Regions from separate parts of the Homo sapiens genome. Here region 2 is linked to region 1. Evidence: fine-mapped expression QTL. A gene starts in region 1. The other region holds a variant in brackets. All regions are shown on one strand. Distances are between the middles of the regions.

Region 1 (5,364 bases):
CAAGCAGGTTTGAGTCTGATAAGACCTCAAAGCATGCCCATTCAACATAAAGGTGAATTGGAAATCAAAATAAGATCTTTCCTTAACATACACACACCAGGAGCTAAAAGGAAATTTGGTATCTCAGACCTTGCTGTTAGGAGGAAGGGGTGAAATCTCGATCGATGACTCATAACCTCACATGAGTTTGCAACTCCAACTGCACCATCTGGCTGTCTGAAAGTCAAGTAGACAATATGGTTCAAAGCAGTTCACGCTGGGCGCGGTAATCCCAGCACTTTGGGAGGCTGAAATTGGGTGATCGCTGGAGGCCAGGAGTTCGAGACTAGCCTGGGCAACGTGGCAGAACCACGTCTCTACAAAAAATAAAAAAATTAGCCAGGTGTGGTGGTGTGCACCTGTCATCCCAGCCACTTGGGAGGCTGAGGTAGGAGGATCGCTTAAAGCCAGGAGTTCCAGACCAGACTGGGCAATATAGCGAGACCTCATCTCTATAAAAAACATTCTATTAACTATCCAGGAGCGGAGGCAGGCGTTTGTAGTCCCAGCTAGTCAGGAGGCTGAGGTGGGAGGATTGCTTGAGCCCAGGAGATGGAGGCTGGTCCACCCTGGGCAACAGAGAAGACACCCTGTCTCAAAAAAAAGGGAGCCAGGCATGGTGGCTCATGCCTGTAATCCCAGCACTTTAGGAGGCCAAGGCAGGCGGACTACGTGATGTCAGGAGTTTGAGACCAGCCTGGTTAATACGGTGAAACCCCATCTCTACTAAAATTACAAAAATTAGCTGGGCATGGTGGCACGTGCCTGTAGTCCCAGCTACTTGGGAGGCTGACGCAGGAGAATCACTTGAACCTGGGAGGCAGAGGTTGCAGTGAGCCAAGATCGCACCACTGCACTCCAGCCTGGGCGACGGAGTGAGACTCTGCCTCAAACAAACAAACAAATGAGCAATAGACAAAAGGTAAGTGCAGCTAGGCGACAAAAGGGAAGTAAGCGGAGGCTGGGACATGGTCAGGGACCTCGTGCGCAATGCTCAGGAGTATGGCCTCAATTCTAATTCTATTTTTTTTTTTTTTTTTGAGACGGAGTCTCACTCTGTCGCCCAAGCTGGACTGCAGTGGCATGATCTCCGCTCACTGCAAGCTCCGCCTCCGGGGTTCACACCATTCTCCTGCCTCAGCCTCCCGAGTAGCTGGGACTACAGGCGTCCACCACCACGCCTGGCTAATTTTTTTGTATTTTTATTAGAAACGGGGTTTCACCGTGTTAGCCAGGATGGTTTTGATCTCCTGACCTCGTGATCTGCCTGCCTCGGCCTCCCAAAGTGCTGGGATTACAGGCGTGAGCCACCGCTCCCGGCCAGTATGGCGTCAATTCTAAGGGCAACAAGGAGCTATGGGAGGGTGCTGAGCAGGAAAATTCAGCAAAGGTTCCCAGAGGGAGAGCCTGCCCTGGCTAAAAGGGGTCCAGTATGTTCTGGGCAGCTTGAGCTTGACACTGCAAGTCTTTCTGAAGACCAGGTGAACATATGGATGGGGGGAGTGGCAGGTGGGCAGGGAACAGATGGTAGGACCTTGAGTGCCCAGCTAGGGGCTGAGTCTTCCTTCTGCCAAGGATGGGCTGGCCATGGAAGGTGTCTGAGCAGAGGGCACAGTCAGATTTCCACATCAGAACAACCAAGGAGCCGGGGGCAGGGGGCCATGGCATGCAGAAGGGGTGAGTTTTAGAAAGTTCAGAACCAGTCAACTTACGGTGGGATCTTTCCCATCTCCACACCCTCTGTGCCCTCCTTACAATGGGTTCAGTCCCTCTTGCTACTCCATCTTACAAGGAGCTGTGAAGGTGTTGAGCCCTGCCCCGCTAGCCGGCGCTCACCTGCTCCCACGTGGTGCTGTTCCTGAGGTCTGCTCTGATAGAAGCCCCCAGCAATGCCTGTTTCATCCCAGAAGGACCCCCAACGGCTCGTTTGAGCAAGTCCCTCAGAGACACCGCAAAAACCCTCCAAGGATCCTTGCACAGGACACCAGAATCTGCCCCCCTAGCATGAATCCAGTGTCCCAGTCTCCAGAAGAGACCCCCCAAACAAGTCCTGGAATACACAGCAGCCTCCCGACACACTCCGAACAACTCCCAAACCCAAAGTCCCACACAGACCCCAAAATCTCAAACAGTGCCCCAGCTGTAAACGATCCCGAGGAAACTCACACCTTCAGAAACCCGGGAAGTCCTTTATAGAGCAGCTCGCTCATCCCTCAGAGAAAGCCCTAGATAGACCCAAAGTGTCTTGGCAACCCCCCAGAGACTATCTATTGGGTCGTCCCTGTGAGCCCCGGTGACCTACTGGAGAGCCCCCTGAAGTCTCTCACAGTTATCACGGCTCCAAAAAGACCCCCACACCGCCACGGATTTCCAGTCAGCCCCAGCTCCCTGGAATTTCCACCAGTTGCCCAAAGACCCCCAAATTGCCCCCCAAATCCCCTGAGATCATCTCCTAAGCAGCCTGCAACGCCCGAAGCACCTTAGAGGCTACTCATCTTCCTCGAGAAATCCTTAAAGTGTCCCCTGTAGCCCCCTCAGAGACCCCCAACTGGTCACCCTCTCAGGCCCCGCCCCCGCCCAGCCCTCGGCCCAGCCCCGCCCCCAACCTACAAAGCACCCTCAGCTCTCCGGACCCTCCAAGCCGTCCCCGCAACCCAGCCCTGCACCGTGCGCCCCCAGAGCCCTCAGCCCCGCCCCCAGCCCTGGACGGATCCCGGCAACACTCACAAGAGGTCTCGCCTCGCGGTCTTGCAGACGATGCGCAGGAAGCGCCAGCCGCCGCTGCCCACGTACACGCCGAGCGCCGCTGCCGCGCTCCAGGTCCACGGCAGCCCCAGCAGCCACAACAGCGCCAGCGAGACCACCGAGGCCGCGCCCGCACCCGGAGCCCGCATCCTGGGGAAGCAGAGAGAGCTGAGGCCGCGGGCCGCTCCAGCCCCGCCCCACGACCCGCTCCGCCCCACGACCGCCCCCGCCTCTACAGCGAGCCGCGCCCCCAGGCCTCGGCTCTGCGCCCCCCGCGAGTCCGGGAACGCGCTCCGAGTCAGACTCCGCCCCCAGGCCTGGGATTGGTCAACTCCTCAGGCCAGGCATCGCCCCTTTCCAGGCTTTTACACCCGCCCGCTAACTAGGAACCAGACCAGGGCCCCAGGCCTGGGATTGGCCAGGTCCTGGCCAGGCTCCGCCCCCGGACCCTGGGTCCGCTCTATTCCATATTTTTGAGCCCATCCTTCCCTGCCAATCTTACAACAGTCCCCGCCCCCAGAGCCAGCATGTCCACCTTGTCGGTCACTGTCAGGCCTCGCCACATGCCTTCATCTAGCCTCTATCCTCGATCCCCGAATTACCCTTCACGTCCTGTCCCCTTTCCTCCTGGTCCTGCCTCTACCCCGTGGCCTTTTCACCACTCACTGGGCCCCGCCCTTAGGTTATGCTTCTAGCCCAGCCCACAGGTACAAGCCCTCTCCCCGAGTCCCGCCCCTCTCAGCCAGGCCCCACCCCCTAGGTTAGACATATGCCTCCCCACCCCCCCGCAATAAGCACACGCCCCACCCTCCCGAAACTAGAGCCCTCCCCAATCCGTTCAAGCCCCACCCCAGTTCCGGGCCTAGCCCAAGTTCCCAGGCTCAGGTTCTATCCTGGCCACGGGCCCCGCCCTCAGGCTTTGGCTCGGTCGCCACCTCCTGGGTTTCACTCCGGCCCCCCTAGGACCTAGGCCCCGCCCCTCTTCCCTCCTGTCTACTTCGAAGCCCCTCAGCCCGCAGAGCCGAGGCCGGCCGTCTTCCAGAAGCCACGACCATAGAGAGGCAACCGGACCGGAGAGGCGACGGCCAAAGAGACATGGGTGCTAGAACGGCCCGCCAGGGTCGTCCGCTGTCTCCATGACAACCAAGCCTTGCCCCACCCCCTCTCCTTTTAGGAAACACACGTGTCCTGCAGCCTTGGGGCGTGGCTCGCAAGATATCAGGACCCGAGCCCTAGTTGGCGTGCAGGATCTCTACCCCGGGGGACCAAAAATATCCCAGTCCACACCCACGGCCCGCGCGGGCTGTATTCTTGCTCCAGCTTGTCCTAAATCCAAGCCCCAAAGCCTCTTTCGGTCTTAAAAACACGTTCCAGGGCCCGGGGGAGTGCTCAACTCACACCATTGGGGCCTCAGAAGTCTCTAACTGTAAACACCGCCGCGGTCTTAACACGTGTGATTCAAGGACACAGCTAATTCTTAATCCATGTCCCGAAGCCTTGTCGGTTAAGTCTCACCGTCACACCCCAGGATCCCAGGGAGGACAAAATCCACACGCCAGGTCCCCATCCTTCCTAGAAGCACCTACAGGCCCTTTACTTGCACCCCGGGGTCCTAGATGCTCCCCCAGGCGCTGCCAGCGCTGGCCTGGGGGCACGCACAACCCCATTCTCTGGCTGACCTGAAGCTGCAAGCCGTGCCTTCAGTCTCCCAGAAGCTCAGGCAGGAGGCAGGCAGGGACTAGGAGGCTGAGGCCGGGGACCTTTCTGTTTCTGCAGACTCCTGGACCCTTCTTGGGTGCGCTGTGCCTACTGTGCGGGCTTCTGCTTTGGGGTCCTTCCCTTCCAGCTCCCCCTCCTCTGCCCCACTGCCGACTCCACCACTGCTTGTTTTCTGCTCTCCTTGGCCGACCTTTCCAGCGTTCTCCTTAGGAGGCGGCCCGGGCCTGATTCCAATGCATTTGGAGGACAGGGCTGGGCAGGCACTCACCCCCTACGCTGCCATTGGTCCCTGCGGGCAGCAGGGTGGCTGGAATGAGGGATCACGAGGAAGATCCGGAGGACAGGCCCAGAGCCAGCCACTGGCCTGCTGCTTTCTGGGCCTGGAAGAGTCAGCAATGACCAGTAACTGCAGTTGCACTCTTACCTAGCCAGGTAGCACCGCTGTGATCACCCCATTTGACAGGTAAAGAAACTGAGGGCAGGCTGGGCGTGGTGACTCACGCCTGTAATCCCAGCATTTTGGGAGGCCGAGTTGGGTGGATCACTTGAGGCCAGAAGTTCGAAACCAGCCTGACCAACATGACGAAACCCCGTCTCTACTAAAAATACAAAAATTAGTCAGGCATGGTGGAGCACACCTGTAATCCCAGCTACTCCGGAGGCTGAGGGAGCAGAATCACTTGAACCCGGAAGGCAGAGGATCCAGTGAGCCGAGATCGCGTCACTATACTCCAGCCTGGGTGACAAAGCAAGACCCTGTCTTAAAAAAAAAAAAATAGAAGAGAGAAAGAAAGAAAGAAAAGAAAGAAACAAAGAAAGAAGGAAGAAAGAAACTGAGGACTGGAGCTGTCATGCTTACTT
Region 2 (5,364 bases), 43 kb before region 1:
GAGGCATGGGGAGGCTGGTGCATTTGTGCAAGGTCCTTCGGTTGGTGAGTGACACTTTGGTTGGTGAGTCACCTCTGGAATGCTGGAAGCCAGGATCCTGAGCCCTGGGTGACGCCGCCTGTCAGGGCAGAGGAGGTTCAAGGGCAAGAGGGAGCCCTGCTGCTCTTGGGGGGCTGGACGGGAGGGTGGCCCTCCTGGGTGAATCGGGATCATGGTGGTTCCTGCGGGGGCCAGCATTCCAACAGGAGTCTTTCAATTCCGTTGTATTTGGGGGGTTTCCTGGCCATAGCCTGCACCTGTCTAGCCAGCCCATTGTCCTGTTTCAAAGCCTCCAGGGTCCCACGGCCCTTGGGATAAAACTCAGCCCCTCACCACCCTCCATGGAGAAGGGTAACCTTCTCCATCCCCACCCTCCCTCCTAAGGCTGCCTGGGAAACTCATATACATCCCTCAGGCCACCTCCTCCGAGCAGCCACCCCCGCCTGCACCTGCCCCACTACAGGGAGTGGGGGCCAGGCTTGCCCAGGCCCAGCACCTGTGGCTAGCGCACAGTAGATGCCCTGGCCTGTGAATGGTGGAGTCGTTGGCAGCAGATTTAACTCAAAAGCACTTGGATCAAGGAGAAAGCTGCAGCCCTATCCCACTGAGAGGCGCCCCAGGGGCCCTGGTCTGCTCTGAGATGGCGTCCATGTCTCGGTGCCTCGTGTTTGTGCAGAGTCTAGCTCAGTGAGCTGAGGCAATGCTAAGGTGAGCCACGAAGTAAACGCAGGGGCTGACTGCCCTGAATGCTGACCTGAGGAGTATGAGCTCCACACTGAGGGCATTGGGGAGCCAAGGAGGGTGTGTGAGCTGGGGAGGGACACAATCGTATCCATAGTTGGAAAGACCACTCTGCTTTGTCCAAGGTCCCTGTGTTAATCTATGCAGCCTGCTATCACAAAACACCATAAACTCGAGGCTTATAAACAACAGAAAATGGCCAGGCATGGTGGCTCACGGCTGTAATCCCAGCACTTTGGGAGGCTGAGGTGGGACAATCGGTTGAGCCCAGGAGTTTGAGACCAGCCTGGGCAGCATAGTGAAACTTCGTATTTACCAAAAATAAAAAATTAGCGGCCTGGCACGGTGGCTCATGCCTGTAATCCCAGCACTTTGGGAGGCCAAGGCAGGCGGATCACCTGAGGTCAGGAGTTCGAGACCAGCCTGACCAACATGGAGAAATCCCACCTCTACTAAAAATATAAAATTAGCTGGGCGTGGTGGTGAATGCCTGTAATCCCAGCTACTTGGGAGGCTGAGGCAGGAGAATCACTTGAACCCAGGAGGCGGAGGTTGTGGTGAGCTGAGATCGCGCCATTGCACTCCAGCCTGGGCAACAAGGGTGAAACTCCAACTCAAAAAAAAAAATTAGCTGGGCCTGGTGGTGCACACCTGTAGTCCCAGCTACTGAGGAGGCTGAGGCAGGGGGATTGATAGAGCCCGGGAGCTGAAGGCTGCAGTAAGCCACGATCATGCCTCTGCACTCCAGCCTGGGCAACACAACAAGATCCTATCTCAAAAAAAGAAAGAAAAGGAAAGGAAAAGAAAAGAAAGTATAGGAAGGGAGGAAGGAAGGAAGGGAAGGAAGGGAGGGAAGGAGGGAAGGAAGGAAGGAAATAGGGTCTTTGCAGATGTAATTAGTTAAGAACAAGTCATAGTGGATTAGTGTGGGCCCTAAATCCAATGACTGGCGTCCTTATATAAGATGAGAAGACACACAGAATCCAAGAAGGCCATGTGCAGACAGAGACAGGAATTGGAATGGTGTGACCCCAAGCCAAGGAACGCCCAGAGCCCCCAGAAGATGAGGAGAAAATGAAGGATCCTCCCAAAGAGCTTTCAGATGGGGCGTGACCCCACCAACACCTTGATTTCAGACTTCTGGCCTCCAGAACGGTGAGAGAATAAATTCCTGTGGCTTTAAGCCGCTCAGTTTGTGGTCATTCGTTATGTAGCCCTAGGGAACCGATATGATTCCCCTCACAGAGAACCGGCAGAAGGAGCAAGTCCTGGCTTCAGGTTTGCTCCCATCACACGGCTTTGGCCTTAGCTGAGCCCTCTTGCCACAGCTTGACCATGGCCAGCTCCTGCACATGCTCCAGCTCTCAGCTCAAATGGCACCTTCTCAGGACCTCCCACCCCATAGCCCTTGACGAATGCTCACTCCCTATTCCCTAGCACTCTGCAGCATTTCACAATTATTTATTTTGAGACAGAGTCTCAACTGTCGCCCAGGCTGGAGTGCAGTGGCATGATCTCAGCTCACTGCAACCTCTGCCTCCCACATTCAAGCGATTCTCGTGCTTCAGCCTCCCCTGTAGCCGGGATTACAGGCACACGCCACCACACCCAGCTAATTTTTGTATTTTTAGTAGAGATGGGGTCTTGCCATGTTGGCTAGGCTGGTCTCCAACACCTGACCTCAGGTGATCCACCATCCTTGGCCTCCCAAAGTGCTGAGATTACAGGTATGAGCCACCACGCCCGGCCAAAAACCTGCTTTTTTTTTTTTTT[A/TTA]TCTTTAAGACAGTCTCACTCTGTCGCCCAGGGTGGAGTGTAATGGCATGATCTCGGTTCACTGATCATGCCTCACTCCTGCCTCAGCCTCCCGAGTAGCTGGGATTACAGGTGCGCACCACCACACCTGGCTAATTTTTGCATTTTTAGTAGAGACAGGTTTCACCATGTTGGTCAGGTTGGTCTCAAACTCCTGACCTCGTGATCCGCCCGCCTCAGCCTCCCAAAGTGCTGGGATTACAAGCGTGAGCCACCGCACCCAGCCAATTTTTGTATTTTTTTTTAGTAGAGACAGAGTTTTGCCATGTTGGCCAGGCTGGTCTCGAAATCCTGACCTCAGGTGATCTACTCACGTCGGCCTCCCAAAGTGCTGGGATTACACGCGTGAGCCACCGCACCCGGCCAAAACTTTTTAATGATGCTCTTGGAAAACACACACAGGAAGGCGGAAGTTAAATGTGTACCCAACTACGAAGTCAGATGAGGCAGGATCACACCCTGGCTGCCCCTCTGGTCACTAGATGCCTTGGGCAGGTAAGCTCACCTCTTCTGGCCTCAGTTTCTCCATCTGTGAAATGAGTGTAACATCTCATAGGCTGTGGTACGGACTCATGAATTGATGCATATAAAGCGTTCAGTAAGCCTTTTCTCTTAATAAAAAACCCACAAAACCATCATCAGCTCAAGATTCTATGCAAAGAGAAGACGGCACACCCAGCATGGGGTGTCCCTTGACGCTGCCAGACTCAAGTGACTTGAGGTTCCTGGCCTTTGAGCCCGCCCCTCCCACTCTTCCCTCGGCCAGGCCAAGGCTCCTCCAAGCCTCAGTTACCCTGTCTTTAAAAGAGCGCGCTCCTCTGATTCTATAGAATCCTGAGGCTCAAAGCCAAAGATGAACAGCCTGGAAGCAGAGCCATCAGAGCGGCAAAGCTGCCCAGGGATCCCCGAGAACTCGCTGGGGTTAGAGATCAGGACCCTGAGATTCAGGCTCTACACCTGATTCCTCGTGCCCCCGTCCGCTACGGGGCTGAGTTATGGGCATCGTTTGACATGGGCCACTCGGATTCCCTTCCAGGCCCTTGCCCGTGCCGTTCCCTCTGCCTGGCCACCGGATGAAGCAGGAAGACGGACTGCAAGTAGACCATTTCTAGCCCTGCCTAGATAAAGGCAGAGGGCGCAGTGAGGTCCTGCGGGACCCACTGTAGGCGGGGTTCAGGAGGCGGGCGAGCCCTGTCGGCTAGACCCCCAGCGGCCCCCGTAGTCGAGGTGCAGGCAGTGGGCGTGACCATCTCGGCATGACCCCCAGTGGCCCCCGTAGCCGAGGGCAACCGGTGGGCGCGGCCCTCTTGGCATGACCCCCAGCGACCCACGTAGCCGAGGTGCAGGCAGTGGGCACGGCCCTCTTGGCATGATACCCAGTGGCCCCCGTAGCCGAGGTGCAGACAGTGGGCGCGGCCCTTTCGGCATGGCCCCCGGCGGCCTCCGTAGCCGGGGTGTAGGCGGTGGCTGTGGCCCTCTCGGCGTGATCCCCGGCGGCCCCCGTAGCTCTCACCCGGTAGAGGCCGTACGTGCTCTCGGCGTGATCGAAGGGCACGAGGCGCTCGTCGCAGAAGCCCAGCGTCCAGCGCGCTAAGCTAGCTGGCCCGGCAGGGGCGACGGCGGCGGGTAGCTCGCGGGCTAGCATCGAGACGAGGCTCCCGCCCGACAGGCCGAGCGCGAAACGGGCGCGGGCCCCTGCCAGGCAGCATGCTGCGCGCTGGGCCACCAGCTGCGCTAGCGCCGCACCCAGCTCCTGGGAACTCGAGAACACCGAGATGAGGCCCGGGGCCGGCGCGGCCATGGCGAGGGCGGCGGCGGGGAGGAGGAAGCGCTCCCTACGGCCGTCGCTAGTACGCCTGCGCAAGGGCCGGCCCTGCCGCTTGGTTTCGAGTACTTTGGGTGATTGTCTTTGGCACATGCGCAGTGAGGCAAGTGAAGCACCGCGAAGGTCGGGCAGTCGGTCCGGCCCTACCCATTGAATCTTTGCCTGCTGTGCCTGAGTCGAAGTGAGTTCGGGAAGCCAGTGCCCGAATGCTCAACCTTGCTGTATCAGGGAGGGCCGGAGAGGGGAGCTCAAGAAGAGGACGTCCTATCGAGGTGGCAGGGATTTTCTGAAGGAGGGCGTATTTTGGTGAGTTTTAAAATTCCTGCACCGCCGGGCGCGGTGGCTGACGCCTGTAATCCCAACACTTTGGGAGGCCGAGGCGGGCGGATCACGAGGTCAGGAGATCGAGACCATCCTGGCTAACACGGTGAAACCCCGTCTCTACTGAAAACACAAAAAATTAACCGGGCGTAGTGGCGGGCGCCTGTAGTCCCAGCTACTCGGGAGGCTGAGGCAGGAGAATCGCTTGAACCGGGGTGGCGGAGGTTGCAGTGAGCCGAGATCGTGCCACTGCACCCCAGCTTGGGCGACAGAGCGAGGCTCCATCTCAAAAAAAAGTAGGGGATGAAAATATGCTTGTTGAATTTTTTTTTTTTTTTTTTTTACATTTTCCGGACGGACGGGCTCTTGCTATATGGTCTAGGCTGATCTTGAACCCCTGGGCTCAAGCGATCTTCCTGCCTCGGCCTCCCAAAGTGGTAGCATTCAGGCGAAAGCCACTGCGCCTGGCCATGCTTGTTGAATTTTTTAAGCTAACCCTCCTAGTGTGGTGGTGTGTCCCTCTGAGTGCCCAGAAAGGCCTCCAATCGAGTTCTTGCCTGGACAGAGGGCTGGAAGGGGAAGAAGGCCTGGTGGGCCTGGGGAGGCTGGGCCACTTCTGAGAGTGG

Direction of the effects. Positions count from the first base shown, and alleles are read on the strand shown. Sizes are in standard deviations (SD) of each study's normalised expression.
With allele A in place of TTA in region 2, the expression in monocytes after LPS of the gene that starts at base 2,950 in region 1 is higher (large effect, 0.88 SD a copy in Fairfax 2014).

The links. PIP is the estimated chance that this variant, and not a neighbour inherited with it, causes the effect.
Region 2: its variant is fine-mapped to the expression of SLC27A1 in monocytes after LPS (Fairfax 2014, PIP 0.94).

Annotation. Positions count from the first base shown.
Region 1 is chr19:17,468,110-17,473,473 of GRCh38, reverse strand. It overlaps SLC27A1 (solute carrier family 27 member 1), which reads right to left and starts at 2,950. Exons shown (of 12, transcript NM_198580.3): 1 at 2,767-2,950. The coding sequence starts at 2,933. RefSeq lists enhancers at 1,833-2,334, 3,756-3,885 and a silencer at 2,876-3,005.
Region 2 is chr19:17,510,702-17,516,065 of GRCh38, reverse strand. PGLS (6-phosphogluconolactonase) reads right to left here and starts at 4,417. Exons shown (of 5, transcript NM_012088.3): 1 at 4,106-4,417. The coding sequence starts at 4,393. PGLS-DT (PGLS divergent transcript) reads left to right here and starts at 4,177. Exons shown (of 3, transcript NR_147835.1): 1 at 4,177-4,723. RefSeq lists enhancers at 2,944-3,599, 3,430-3,689, 3,652-3,946, 4,440-4,689, 4,257-4,913 and 1 more and silencers at 3,652-3,946, 4,190-4,239, 4,250-4,379. The variant A/TTA (reference allele first, on the strand shown) is at 2,554.